4 linked regions of the Homo sapiens genome follow. The protein of the gene in region 3 interacts with the protein of the main gene of each other region in a biochemical or structural test. Each region holds a gene or a part of one and is shown on either strand. Other genes may lie near its edges.

The links.
Region 1: of the proteins of FBXO11 (region 3) and DTL, one has a biochemical effect on the other in vitro, tested with the Homo sapiens proteins (one study listed by BioGRID).
Region 2: the proteins of FBXO11 (region 3) and USP16 interact in a test that uses a peptide from one of them, tested with the Homo sapiens proteins (one study listed by BioGRID).
Region 4: of the proteins of FBXO11 (region 3) and BAHD1, one has a biochemical effect on the other in vitro, tested with the Homo sapiens proteins (one study listed by BioGRID).

Annotation. Positions count from the first base shown.
Region 1 is NC_000001.11:212,098,248-212,101,747, reverse strand, and holds part of DTL (denticleless protein homolog), read right to left. Parts: intron 1,497-3,500; coding exon 664-1,496; intron 1-663. UniProt on the Homo sapiens protein: Substrate-specific adapter of a DCX (DDB1-CUL4-X-box) E3 ubiquitin-protein ligase complex required for cell cycle control, DNA damage response and translesion DNA synthesis.
Region 2 is NC_000021.9:29,041,668-29,045,167, reverse strand, and holds part of USP16 (ubiquitin carboxyl-terminal hydrolase 16), read right to left. Parts: intron 3,156-3,500; coding exon 3,064-3,155; intron 2,697-3,063; coding exon 2,640-2,696; intron 1,746-2,639; coding exon 1,569-1,745; intron 1-1,568. UniProt on the Homo sapiens protein: Specifically deubiquitinates 'Lys-120' of histone H2A (H2AK119Ub), a specific tag for epigenetic transcriptional repression, thereby acting as a coactivator.
Region 3 is NC_000002.12:47,826,499-47,829,998, forward strand, and holds part of FBXO11 (F-box only protein 11), read right to left. Parts: intron 1-3,500. UniProt on the Homo sapiens protein: Substrate recognition component of a SCF (SKP1-CUL1-F-box protein) E3 ubiquitin-protein ligase complex which mediates the ubiquitination and subsequent proteasomal degradation of target proteins, such as DTL/CDT2, BCL6, SNAI1 and PRDM1/BLIMP1.
Region 4 is NC_000015.10:40,461,453-40,464,952, reverse strand, and holds part of BAHD1 (bromo adjacent homology domain-containing 1 protein), read right to left. Parts: intron 3,042-3,500; coding exon 2,659-3,041; intron 1,093-2,658; coding exon 933-1,092; intron 483-932; coding exon 406-482; intron 1-405.

The DNA.
Region 1 (3,500 bases), on a different chromosome or scaffold from region 3:
AAATGAGTCCTAAAAAGATAAGTGACACTACACTGAATGTTAAAAAGAATAGATATAGGTGTCAAAAGTATTACTGTGGTGTGGCAAAATGATTATAAAAGATTGTGGAGAAGTCATAAAAATCTAGAAAGATTTTGCACTCAAATTGTTTTGTAAGTATCTAAGTTTCACTGTATTTTAAATAATCACAAAATGGAATTACAAACTGGAAATCTACTTATGGATGTTGGCAACTTTCCCATGAACAACAGCTTTATCTATAAAAAGAGGATGGCATACTGTCTAACAGGAGAGGGGAGATATTTTTGAATTGATATCCTGGAGCATGATGAAGGCTTTGGTCAATCAGGCAACAGGGCTGAGGAGTATGGACCCTGACAGGAGGGATTTTAATGGGAGTAAGTAGAGTTGCCAGATAAAATACAGCACATTCAGTTACATTTGAATTTCAGACAAACAAAAATAGTTTCTTAGCATAAAACATTTTTACTAAAAATATGGCCCATGCAAAATTTGTTTTGTATTTATGTGCTGAATTTGGCAGCACTAGGAATAAATAGATTTCTTTCTTTAAAAAAAAAAAAAAGCATCCTGACTTGAGACATCTGGGTGTCTGGCCCCTTTTAAGTTAGGAAATGTATCTTCCCACCACTGCTGACTTACCGGGCTTGGCAATTTCTTTCCGCTCTGTCTCCTGGAATTGGGTGTCTGGGATGACGGACTTCGTGGAGATGGATTCTCAGCCTTCCGTTTGGCTGCCATGGCCAACAACCAGTTTTTATTCTCTGGGGAACTATTCTCTTTGCCTACCATTTCAGACCCTTCTCCACAAGGTCTCAAAGGAAGAGGTAGCGTTCCACAGCTTTCTGAAGCATACGGACTGATAGGAGACGGAGGCTCTGAGATACTGGTACCAGCTCCTTCAATTTTGCTTGATTTGGTAGGACCTAGAGAGTCCTTACTAAGGTCTTCCTGGTTACCAGCAAGGCAGCACAGATCCAAATGAAGATTTTCAACTTGGCCATCAAGCTCAGTCACACAGTTACAACTCTTCACACACTTTTGTTTCACACTCTCCAGACAGCTTGAGTCTAGCCTCCTCTTTACTCTATTTCTAGACTCAGAGCAAGCCTCTGCTTGGGATGACTTCTGGCTCACAGGAATAAGGGCTTTTCTCGGAGACATGATCTTGGTCTCCGAAGCAGGTGGAGTGATGGGTGGTGATGAGGAAGGTGTTCGGGTCACCCAGTTTCTAATCGACATCTTGAAAGATGAAGGTGGCTTGGGAGAGACGGAGGAGACAGAGCCTCTTCTGTTGATGGGAGACCGGGCCTTGGCAGGAGAGGTTTTAATAGAGAACGTAGGAGTATTTGAAGGAAGAGGGAGGTCTCCAGCACAGCTTGGGGCACAAGCTGCGGATGACGGGGAAGAATTGGATGGATTGCACTTTGCCCTGGGGGCTTTGGCAGGAGTACTCTGGCTACTCGTTACTGTTACTGAAAAAGAGGAGAGGATCATGAAGATCAGAAGTGAAAGCCATACAAAGTCCCTAAATTCTCATCAAGAAAAATCATAGCTAACCTAATCATCTAAGGGTCAATTTGCCAGTAAGTAGGTATACATCACTTGATTCCAACCACACCCTTTTATCATTTTCCTTTCTCTTTTCCAAGTCACCAACCTCCCAACTATCCCATTATAAAATATATACTTGTAAAAATCGACAAAATACCGAAAAACATAAAGAGAAAAAATTTAAAGCACTTACGTAAACCATGTTTAGCATACTTTCTATATTTGTGCATGTGATACATACTATACATCTCAACTTTTTTCTTTACAAAAATGAGACTGATTTAAGGGGAAAGTGGCAGATAGGAGGCAGGACTAATTTGCCACTCAGACAGACAGAACAGCATGTGGAGACTCACATAGTGAACTTTGGCTCCAAGAACTATCACAGGAACATACCAGAAAAAACAAAAGAATTAACAGATCCTTTGAAAGAAGTGGCTTGCTGCTGCAAAATCCACAAGACAGCAGAAAAATTGAGTGCCCAAAGTGTGAGAGGGCTCCCGAAGCTGTGTGCTTGGTCGAAGAGGACAACCATTCCTGATAAGAGGAGAATCGGTCTTCAGTCAAGGGTATACGAGTAAATGTGCTCCCCTGCTAGAACCTCCAAACAAGCTCTCAAGGTCCAAAGTGTGAGAGGGTGGCTGGGTGTGGTGGCTCATGCCTGTAATCCCAGCACTATGGGAGGCCGAGGTGGGTGGATCACTTGAGGTCAGGAGTTCAACACTAGCCTGGCCAACATGGTGAAACCCTGTCTCTACTAAAAATACAAAAATTAGCCAGGCATGGTGGTGTGCACCTGTAGTCCCAGCTACTCAGGAGGCTGAGGCAGAAGAGTTGCTTGAACCTGGGAGGTGGAAGTTGCAGTGAGCCAAGATCGCATGCACTGCACTCCAGCCTGCCTGACAGCGAGACTCCGTTTCAAAACAAACAAACAAACAAACAAACAAACAAAAAACAGTGTGAGAGGGGTAAAGTCCACTTCTGCACACATCCTCACTGAGGATCCAGATCATGGGAGAAGGAGAACTGAAATGAATTTAGAGAGCCAAACAAAATATAAAAGTAGAAGCAGCAGCAGGAAGAGCCCTGTAGGCACTCCTGGTCCCCAGGGAAACCATTTCTGACTATCTCACAGGGGTCTTTGGAGAGGGCAGCCAATGGAATTGGGGAAGGACCATAGGGAGAAGGAGACTTTCAGCTGAACTTTGTAATGATTTCAACTGAGCGTGAATTTTCCTGGGCAGAATCTGCAGGGGGATGGGACAAATAGGAAGTGCAGATATGAGCACAGAAGCTGTGGCAGGCAGATGGACAAGGCCTAACAGCCCTGCTTGCTTTCTCGGCGGGGAGTTTTGTAGTCTAGGGCAAGATCTCCACCCTGTGCACTGGAGGCATGGATATAAATTTGGTTCTGTTGGCTGTTGGGGAAGCACTGCAGGAGTGAGACTGGCCTTGCTGGCTGTGGTCTGTCACTGCCGGCTTTCCCCTATTTCCCTGGTGATGTGTATGAAGCAGCAGAGGCAGCCATAATCTCCCTTAGAACGTAACTCCATTGGCCTGTTAACCACCACTCCCATCGCCCAGAGGCCACAGCAAGCCCTGCCCAAGGAGTCTGAGCTCAGACACACTATCCCTGCCCCCACCAGATGGTCTTTCTCTAACCGCCCTGGTAGCCGTAAACAAAAGACAAAAACTCGTGGGGCCCTGCTCATTGCCTGAGAAGCCCGAAAACCTATCCAGGAAACCGTAAGGCAAGCTTATATCCCCCGCTATACTACTGCAGTTGATACTCTCTTGAAAGTGCCACCTCCTGGCTGGAGGCCAACCAATTCAAGCCATTACAGCAATTCAACAGAACAACCCTGCTCCAAGAAAGCAGAAAATAACAGCTAATTCTACTGCCTGTAACATCTTGGCCAACCAGA
Region 2 (3,500 bases), on a different chromosome or scaffold from region 3:
AAAAGAATATAAGCAAAAACTTCAAAGAACATGAAATGCAAATGGCTCTGAAACATAAAAATATGCTTAATCTAATTTATATTAAAATAAATGTAAAATAAAACTGCACTGAGATAATATTTTCCATCTAACATACCAATCAAAATCTGGAAGTTTGATAACACACAGCTGTCAAGGGTCAGGAGCAACCTTTGTGAAGGACAATTAGTATCAACCAAAACTACAAATGCAATCCCTCTTCTCAAAATTTACCCTACAGATGACTTATGTGTAGGGTTATTCACTAGAGCACTCACCATTATAGCAAAATACTAGAAACAACCTAAATCAATAGAGAAATGGTTAAATGAATTATGGCACATCCATAACACAGAATCATGCAACTGTTAAAAAAAAGAAAGAAAGAAAGAAAGAAAGAATGGGCCAGGCACGGTGTCTCACATCTGTAATCCCAGCACTTTGGTAGGCTGAGGTGGGCAGATTATCTGAGGTCAGGAGTTAGAGACCAGCCTGACCAACATGGCGAAACCTGTCTTTACTAAAAATACAAAAGTTAGCCAGGTACGGTGGCACATGCCTGTAATCCCAGCTACTTGGGAGGCTGTGGCAGGAGAATCACTTGAACCTGGGAGGCAGAGGTTGCAGTGTGCCAAGATCTCGCCATTTGCACTCCAGCCTGGGCGACAGAGTGAGACACCATCTCAAAAAAAAAAAAAAAAAGAATGAAGAAGTTTTATATACTAAAATGGAAAGGACTCCAAGAATCTAAGTATAAACAAACAACACAATCCAGAATGGTGTGAATGGTGAGAAAGGGGGAAAAAAACCAAGACTGCATATTTGTATTTGCTCATATTTTCCAAAAGAAACTCCAGAAGGATACGTAAGAAAAAACAAAAATGTTTATCTTTGTCATAAAAGGAAAGTGGTGGTCGGCCGGGCGCGGTGGCTCATGCCTGTAATCCCAGCACTTTGGCAGGCTGAGGAGGGAGGATCACTTGAGGTCAGGAGTTTGAGACCAGCCTGGCCAACAATGGTGAAACCCTGTCTCTACTAAAAATATAAAAATTAGCTAGGCTTGGTGGCATGCACCTGTAGTCCTGACTGCTCAGGAGGCTGAGGCACGAGAATTGCTTGAACCTAGGAGATGGAGGTTGCAGTGAGCAGAGATCGTGCCACTGCACTCTGGCCTGGGCGACACAGCAAGACTCCATCTCGGGTTGGAAAAAAAAAACAGTGGTGGGAGGGGGACTTATTGTTTACCTTTATATATTTTTAAATTTGTGGATGTCAATAATATTAACTCGAAAATTAAGTTAATTAAACTTACTACAAATACTTGTTACAAGCAATGCAGGATTTAAAAAAAAAGAAGCACGACGTTTTCTTCACATATACTCAAAGCAATTTCCCTGCAGAGAATACTAAATGAGCTAAATTCTGTAATTGTCAAATGAAAGTGCTGTATCTAAAATAACAGACATGTCTAACCAATGTCATTCAGACTACAAACTCAATAGCTCAAAATATAAAATTACAAGCATATGATTTTCCTCCTAATTACCCACCTTGGCTTGCTTTTTGGCTTGTTTCTTTGCTTTTTTCTGTAAGTGCTTACTTGTTCCAGAAGGAATATCACTTCTCTCTTTTATGTAACTGTCGTTATCTTTTTCTTCCTCACTATCTTGATCTTCATCCTCCACTGTCTTTTTCAGATTTTTATCATTTACACTTTTCTTACCACTCTTAAAATATAGATAACATAGGTCAAAAACAAAATTTTACAACTACCATTTGGTGAAAAAAAATCCACACTATGTAAATATTTTTCTACTTCTATTATGTATTAGCTTTTTTTTTCCACAATATTTGAAAATAGATGAGACAAAATTCGTTTATCTCATACACTAGAAAGCAATCTTCACATAATGAGAAAACAAGCAAACCAACAAAACAGCAAAAGGCAACATCACATGTAAGTGTAATAGAAATATAACGAAATTTATTAGATACATGCTGTGTCACACTGTAAATACGTCCATTTCCAAATACATTTTCTAAGTGACTTATGTAAGTCACCACGGTGTATTCTTTTTTATTCTTTTCTTTCTTTGCATGCATATGACAGTTTCAGAAAAACAGAAAATAAAATTTGGTGAGACTTTAATTGCCAAGTTAACAAGCCAAGGGTCTCATAATTCATATGAAGTTGAAGAATGATTTATCCAATACTCATAACATCTCTTCTTTTTTCCTACTACTATTTAAAAGGAACCAAATTAAAACAAAATAATACTCTTTAACATTTATGAACTTAGGTGTGCAAGGGATTCGTGATTAGTCTTAAATAACAAAAATAAGTATTAATTTTAATATAAGGAAAATACTTCACTGTATGGAAACCAATCAAACTAATTACTTGTACAGAATTCTGAATACATCATCTTTTTTTCCATCCTTGTTTTTAAAGTAGTTACCCTGTTCTTTATTCAAATCCTAAAATGCATTCTACCTCAAATTAAGAAAAATTTCTGCATGGGCTAGTAATATACAAACTTAAAAAGAGTAACAAGGCTTCCCCCCACAAAATCTTACAGGAAAAAAAATCTACTTGAATAAAATAAATTCAATAGTCTTACCTGATCATCTAAAACTGGGAGGGACAAATCAAGGAAAGATTCATGAACCAAGGAGACCTTAACCAATCAGAAAAGACAGTGTAAAAATGTAAATACTGTAAATGTTACATAGTAAGATCCTCCCTGCCCTGTGGGATGGGGAGTAGGGGATGGGTTTTAAAATAAACAAAGGCTTAAGAAAATTTGAAATGAAAAATTACACAACATTGAGGACTTTGGGTTGGGGGAAATAAATCAAACTGTTTAACGTCTTCAAGATTTAAGGAGTGCTGACATTTCCCACAAAGAACCATGCACATCTGAATAGCATCTGAATAGTTTAAAAAGATATCCTATGAAGGTAGAGATTTCTGCTTTTGAAATAAACAATTGATAAACTGTTGAATATTAGCAAATAAACCCAGTATACATGACATCTACTTACAGTTCTGCATTGATCACACATGATCATACTAGTTAGTTCACCACCAAAGATGCGGTCAACAAAACTTGGCATTGATTTTTTCTTCTCATAATCTATGGAGAAAAAAAAGTCTATCAATTACCAATTACCGTTATATAATTAATTAAACAAGAAAAGCTAAAACTACTTACCTATCTAACTCTAAAATTTTATTTTAAATTTCCTGTCCCACAGACTTCTTCCTCCATTCATAATCACCTTTTTTAAGCAATAGAAGTCAGTATTATATATTCCACCTCTGAGCATAACATAATTGAACACAATCGCCTTTTATGAATAAGACAAAAAAGTCCTTATCCAAGATCTAGTCAGTGGGAAGTAAACTGTGCAAGTCAGTGAGACTTCTATGTCTTTCTCTCTCTCTCCATTAGTATAAAATGAACAGCTCAGAGTAGGCT
Region 3 (3,500 bases):
CAGTTTTAGGTATTATCCACTGACTTCTATTATGGGACAGCAGAATTTAGCTCTCCTACCTCTCTATCCCCCACAATATATACTCACACATTGTATCCTTTCAGTGTAGTTTAACCTTAATTTTGGTTAGATTAGTGTGCTATTCAGAGTTGAGCCATAAAATATGACTTCTTTGCTGCACAATTTTTTGGATTTTTTTCTCCTTTGCTTAGCTTTCTAGTGACAACTCTATCCTAAACTTGTTGCTAGTTGTCCAAATCACCTCTTCTTTTTATTTATTTTTTTGACACAGAGTCTCACTCTGTTGCCCAGGATGGAGTGCAGTGGCCCAATCTTGGCTCACTGCAACCTCTGCCTCCCAAGTTCAAGCGATTCTCCTGCATCATCTCCTATAAATCACCTCTTAATACATTTACATTTACATTAGGTTTACCAATTTATCTTTCTGAACAGCTTTATTGGAGCTTTAACCTGCTCCAATCTGGTTGGCTGCCCTGGTCACAGGCATGCAGTCATTTACCACATTGTATTAATAAATTAGGTTAAGGATTAAATATGTCACCTAATTCCATCAAATATGGAGTTTATAATCTGTATCTTTTGTTTCAGAGTAACTTTCAAGAAAATAAAGCAGCAAAAAGTTTTCTTTTCTCAACGACCTTAAAATGAGAAGCCTCTACATTGGCACAACAATGATTTTACTACCTTTAGAAATGACAAAGATTGATTGACTTATAGTTTTATAATTTTGCAAGAAAACTTATTTTTATTATGGATTCAGTTAATGTAATTTTGCTTCAAGATTTTTTTGTTTGTTTGTTTTTGTTTTTGAGACAGAGTGTCTGTCGCCCAGGCTGGAGCGCAGTGGCGCACTTTCGGCTCACTGCAACCTCTACCTCCTGGGTTCAAGTGATTCTCCTGCCTCAGCCTCCCGAGGAGCTGGGACTTTTGGTGTGAGCCACCACGCCCAGCTAATTTTTGTATTTTTAGTAGAGATGGGGTTTCACTATGTTGGCCAGGATGGTCTGGAACTCCTGACCTCAAGTGATCTGCTCGCCTCGGCTTCCCGAAGTGCTGGGATTATAGGCATGAGCCACTGAACCCGGCCTGCTTCAAGACGTATTTTAATAGAATGCAACTATTTTGTTAAGCAATACCTCTAGTACAAAATAAATCAATAATACAGAACTGTAAGAAATTAGATTTTTTTTTTTTTTTGAGGTGGAGTTTCACTGTCTCCTAGGCTGGAGCGCAGTGGTATGATCTTGGTTCATTGCAACCTCCAAATCCCAGGTTCAAGCAATTTTCGTGCCTCAGCCTCCAAAGTAGCTGGGATTACAGGTGGGTGCCACCATGCCCAGCTAATTATTGTATTTTTAGTAGAGACGGGGTTTTGCCAAGTTAGCCAGGCTGGTCTCGAACTCCTGGCCTCAAGTGATCCACCTGCCTCAGCCTCCCAAAGTGCTGCGATTACAGAGCTACCAAGCCCGGCTGAAAAAAATTTTTTAAGAAGACGGGAATCTCCCTGTCACCCAAGCTGGAGCTATCACAGGTCATTACAACCTTGAACTTCTGGGCTCAATCAATCCTCTTGCCTCAGCCTTCCAAGTAGCTAGGATTATAGGCGTGTGCCACCATGCCCAGCTAATTTTTAGAATATTTCTTTAGTAGAGATAGGGTCTGTCTTGCTCAGGTTGATCTTGAACTCCTGGGTTCATGCAGTCCTCCTGCCTCAACCTCCCGAAGTGCTGGGATTACAGGTGTGAGCCACTGTGCCCAGCCTCTGCTTTGTCTTTTAATGCAAACCACAAAAGTTCCAACATGTATAAATTTTTTGAAGTAAAACATTCTTTATTAAATATGACAAAGTAGGCCAGGCGCGGTGGAGCTCTTGAAGTCAGGAGTTCTAGACCAGCCTGGCCAACATGGTAAAACCCTGTCTGTACTAAAAACACAAAAGTTAGCTGTGCGTGCTGGCAGGCATCTGTACTCCCACCTACTCGGGAGACTGAGACACAAGAATTGCTTGAAGCCTGGAAGGTGGAGGTTGCAGTGAGCCGCGATTGCACCACTGCACTCCAGCCTGGGTGACAGAGTGAGACTCTTGTCTCAAAAAAAAAAAAAAGACAAAATAAAAGGCATTCAAGAGTTTCACAAGAAACTCTCCAGATTAAAAAAGAGAGAAAAATGCTATCTTCATAGAAATAAACTTCCACAACTCTAATCTATAAAAACACTTACCAAATACTGTGAAATCTGGGTAAGAAAGAGGAGGGTGCTGGGAACTAACCAATGTTAGTACCTTAGACTTTCAATGAAGTGTAGTTGTCCCCAAGTAACTAAAGGCTATAATAAGCTTAGCTTATTATTATCTTCTAACTAAAGTGATGAAATCTAATGGCATGAATATGCCATGAATTTTTTTATTTTTTTGACAGAGTCTCACTCCTCTGTCGCCCAGGCTGGAGTGCAGTGGCATGATCTTGGGTCACTGCAACCTCCACCTCCCACCTCCCCACTTCAAGTGATTCTCATGCCTCAACCTCCTGAGAGGCTGGGATTACAGGCACACGCCACCACGAGGCAGTGTTTCGCAGTGTTGGCCAGGCTGGTCTTGAACTCCTGGGCTCAAGGGATCTGCCTACCTTGTCCTCCCAAAGTGTTAGGATTACAGGCGTGACCCACTGCACCCGGCCTCAAAAAATTTTATAGTTATTTGGCACTGCTATGACATTTTATTTATTTATTTATTTATTTTTTGAGACAGAGTCTTGCTCTGTCGCCCAGGCTGGAGTGCAGTGGCGCGATCTCGGCTCACTGCAACCTCTGCCTCCTGGATTCAAGCGATTCTCTTGCCTTAGCCTCTCGAGTAGCTGGGACTTGAGGCGTGCACCAACACACCCGGCTAATTTATGTATTTCTAGTAGAGACAGGGTTTCACCATGTTGGCCAGGCTGTTCTCGAATTCCTGACCTCAGGTGATCTGCCTGCTCGGCCTCCCAAAGTGCTAGGATTATAGGCATGAGCCACCACACCTGGCCTGCTATGACATTTTAATCTTATTTTACAAAAGTAACAACTCTGCACTGAACTGAGTATTAAACAAACAAAAGACAATTGGAGAACTGTGAACATTAAGAGAAAATTTGATGATATTAAGGAATTATTCCTAATTATTGAGGAGTGGATTAGCACTGTGGTTATGTGAAAGAAAAAAAAAACACCCATCTTTTAAAGACACATGGTAAAATATTTACAAGAGATGATGAAGTCTGGTATTTACTTCAAAATAATCCAGAGTGTAAAAAAGGTAGTAAAACGTATGAGGTATACATTAAACAAAATTGGCCATGAAATGATAGTTGTTGAAGGCAGACAATAGGTACCTGGAGAGTCATTACACTATTCTCTCTACTTCAGTGTACGTTAGAAATATTTCATTAAAAAAATGTAAAAATTAAAGGCAACACCCACACTGGAAGCAAAATAGCAGCAGAAAA
Region 4 (3,500 bases), on a different chromosome or scaffold from region 3:
ACAGCTTGGTGGAGAGCCTATGGGGTGTTAGGAGGAGTCTTTCCTCCCCTCCCCTCCCCTACTACAGAAAATACCAAAAGTGACCAGGTATGCAGCTCCACCTCACCTTTCCTGTTTCCAGGGGAACACATCCACTTGCTCCCATTGGCACCTGCTACCTCAAGGGTTCCCTTTCTGTTCCTCTTTTTAAGACAAAGGTTATTATTCCCTTTGAAACATGAATTGGGGCAGTGTTGGGAAAAGAGAATAAATCCTGGGCCCTTTCCCAGGTTCTCTGGAGTCCAAAGTGACAAGCGCAGGGATTTGACTACAGCCCATGGCTGCCCTCCCCCTACCACGTCTTAGTGCCATAACCTTTCCCTCTGTCTCTCCTGCCCTCCCTGACCCATCTGCCAGGCAGCTCACCTCGTGCATGCTGGGACTGCGGCCTCCCTGTAAGTGCTCAGGTCTGTAATACCACAGGAGGCTCATCATCAGCTCTCCTGGAAGGACAACACAGTGGTTATGGCTTGAACTGGCAACCTGAGTTACTTAGACAGGCAGAGAGGCTGGCTGGCTGCCCTGGAGGTTCATCCAACCTCAATCCTGCAGGCTCCGGCAACCCATGTCCCCTGCCCCAGGCCAAGCATTCAGAGGCCTGGAATGCTGTTAGGCATGGAGGGAGAAGGGGGAGAAGGCACTGACAGGTGAGGTGGGGGGACAGGTGCCCAGGCTCTGCTGGCTGGAAAGGTTAATGAGCTGATCCAACCCAAGCCACAAGGTCACCCACAGCCCTCGGCAGCAGAGAGACCCCAGCCGAGTGGAAGGCAGACTCTGTGCCAGGAACACGGGGAGACTCACGCCAGGTCAAACTCCAGGCAGGGGCCAATCTGGGGACTACAGTTCTGCTGAAGGCAGCTGCCCCTTGGGTCCCCAGCCAGAGGGAGAGGTACCTGACTCGGGGTTCTCCCAGAGGGCAGAGATCTTGGCCACATAAGGTGTGGAGGTCTTTCGTGGGCCTGATTTGAGAAGGACGGTGTCCCGGACTCGGATTGTCTCCCCATGCCGCTCTACCGCCTGGTAGCTCTTTCGGATGGCTGGCTCCGGCTCATCCTAGGCAACAAACCAATGACACAAATAGGCTTGCAGAGCCACACTCAGAGTAAGGACAGAGAGAGGGAATGACATCCTTTCCACGATTTCCTCAAGATAGTCAAACCACTACCTTGGTTTTGTCAAACCACTATCCTTTTTTGGATGGGGCTGGGGAATTCTCATGGTTGGAGAAAGGATGAGAAAAGGGAATAGGGGTGGAAAAGTGGCCTGAAGCTTCTGGGGCTGAGCTCTGACCACCATACCCGACAGCTGACTCTCACTCCAAGACCCCCAGTGCTGGGTAAGTGCTCATGCTTCCTAATGGAACAAGTCTCGGTCTGAACCCTTAAACCACTGTTATAAGGGGCACAGCCTTTGACAAATTATTTAAAGTATTGCTAAGCCTCAGCTTCCACATCTGTAAAATGGGATTAATTATAGGAAGATGGGATATATACCACATAGGGTAGTGGTGAGGATTAAAGGGCATAATACTTACAAAATGCTTAGCTCAGTTCTGGCATCTAAGAAGTGCTCAATAAATTTTATGTATTTATGTATTTATTTATTTTTAGAGACAGGGTCTCACTCTGTCACCCAGGCTGGAATGCAGTGGTGCAACCATAGTTCACTGCAGCCTCAACCTCCTGGACTCAAGTGATCCTCCTGCCTCAGACTCTCAAGTAGCTGGGACTACAGATGCATGCTACCATGCCTGGCTAATTAAAAAAATTTTTTTTCTGTAGACAGGATCTTGCTATGTCGACCAGGTTGGTCTTGAACTCCTGAGCTCAAACAATCCTCTAGCATCAGCCTCTGAAAGCTCTGGGATTATATGCATGAGCCACCTTGCCCAGCCTCAATAAATTTTAGTTAATATTCTTTTTGTTTTTAATTAATTAATTTTAAAAGCCAGGGTCTCTCTGTCACCCAGACTGGAGTGCAGTGGTGCAATCAGCTCACTGCAGCCTTGAACTCCTGGACCTAAGCAATCCTCCCACTTCAGCCTCCTGGTGCACACCACCATGCCTGGCTAACTAATGTTTTTACTTTGTAGAGATGAGGTCTATATTGCTCAGGCTCGTCTTGAACTCCTGGCCTCATGCGATCTTACCACTTCCACCACCTAAAGTACTGGGATTACAGATGTGAGCCACCGCACTTGGCCTCTTTTCATCATCCGAGATGTTCTCTGTGTCACTAATTTTCTCTGCCCATTCCAACGCCCCCTATATAGACTTATCCAGAAAAGTTCTCCATTGAAAGTCCTCCACTTTACAATCCAGGGTGTAAGGGACAAAGTGAGCAGGGAGGGGAGGGGAAGACACTCACCGAGATGGCAGCCACCAGCTATGACTGTGTGTCTCCTGACCTCCCTGGGGTGTCTGGTACAGGATCAGTAGGGGGCTAGGGAAGCAAGCTGGGTGGGCCAGCATGACTGGTTCCTGGGGTACAAGTAAACTGGAGTCCCTTGTCAGCTCTCAGAGTAGCTAGAACCAGGTGCTTCTAGCACCTACCTCACTGCAGGTCATGTGTCCCCACTGCCTCCCTCCCTCTCGTCATCAGCTAAGAGCTAGCACTTACCAAGACATACACAGCCTTCTCACACGCAGCCCCAACAGGTACCCAGCCATTAGTGCGGCGGCGACGGCGGCGGCGAGGGCGTGGGCGCTGGACACGTGGCTGCTTGGGGTGGCTAGGCCTGCGGGCAGCCTTGCTCCTTGCAGTGTGCCTGCAGCTGGAGCCTGTGCGCAGACCTGACTTAGAACCGCTGGGAGGTTTGGCGCTCTGAGGGCACGCACGGGCTACTGTCTGGGGCTCCGAGGTGGGTGTCTGAAGATGGGGGACGGGCTCTGCTGCAGGTGGCACACTGGGTACAGGGCACCCCAGGAGTGGGTGGGCGGGTGAGGCTGGGTGGCCAGCTTCCGGGAGAGGAAATTCCAACTGGCCCAGGGATCTGCAGCCTTCTAGGAAAGGGAGAGAGTGGTCAGGACAGGACAAGCAGTGACCCCCATCACCCATCTGCTTTCAGAGCCTGCTCCTGTCTTAATTCTAACTGTGCAACCAAAGGCCACTGAGGTGGCCGATGGGATCAGAGGCCTTTTTATGGTGGACTGTCAGAGTGACTCTCTAAGGGGACAGGGGTGTTTCCTGATCTTGGAGATTGGCCATCTCCCCTTTTAGTCTGAAAGAGAGGTGGTTGGAACATCCTTTTTAACTCCGAACTTTTTTTTTTTTTGAGACAGAGTCTCGCTCTGTTGCCCAGGCTAGAGTGCAGTGGTGCTATCTTGGCTCACTGCAACCTCCGCCTCTCGGGTTCAAGCATTTCTCCTGCCTCAGCCTCCTGAGTAGCTGGGATTACAGGTGCCCATCACCACACCCAGCTAATTTTTTTGTATGTTTAGTAGAGATAGGGTTTCACCATG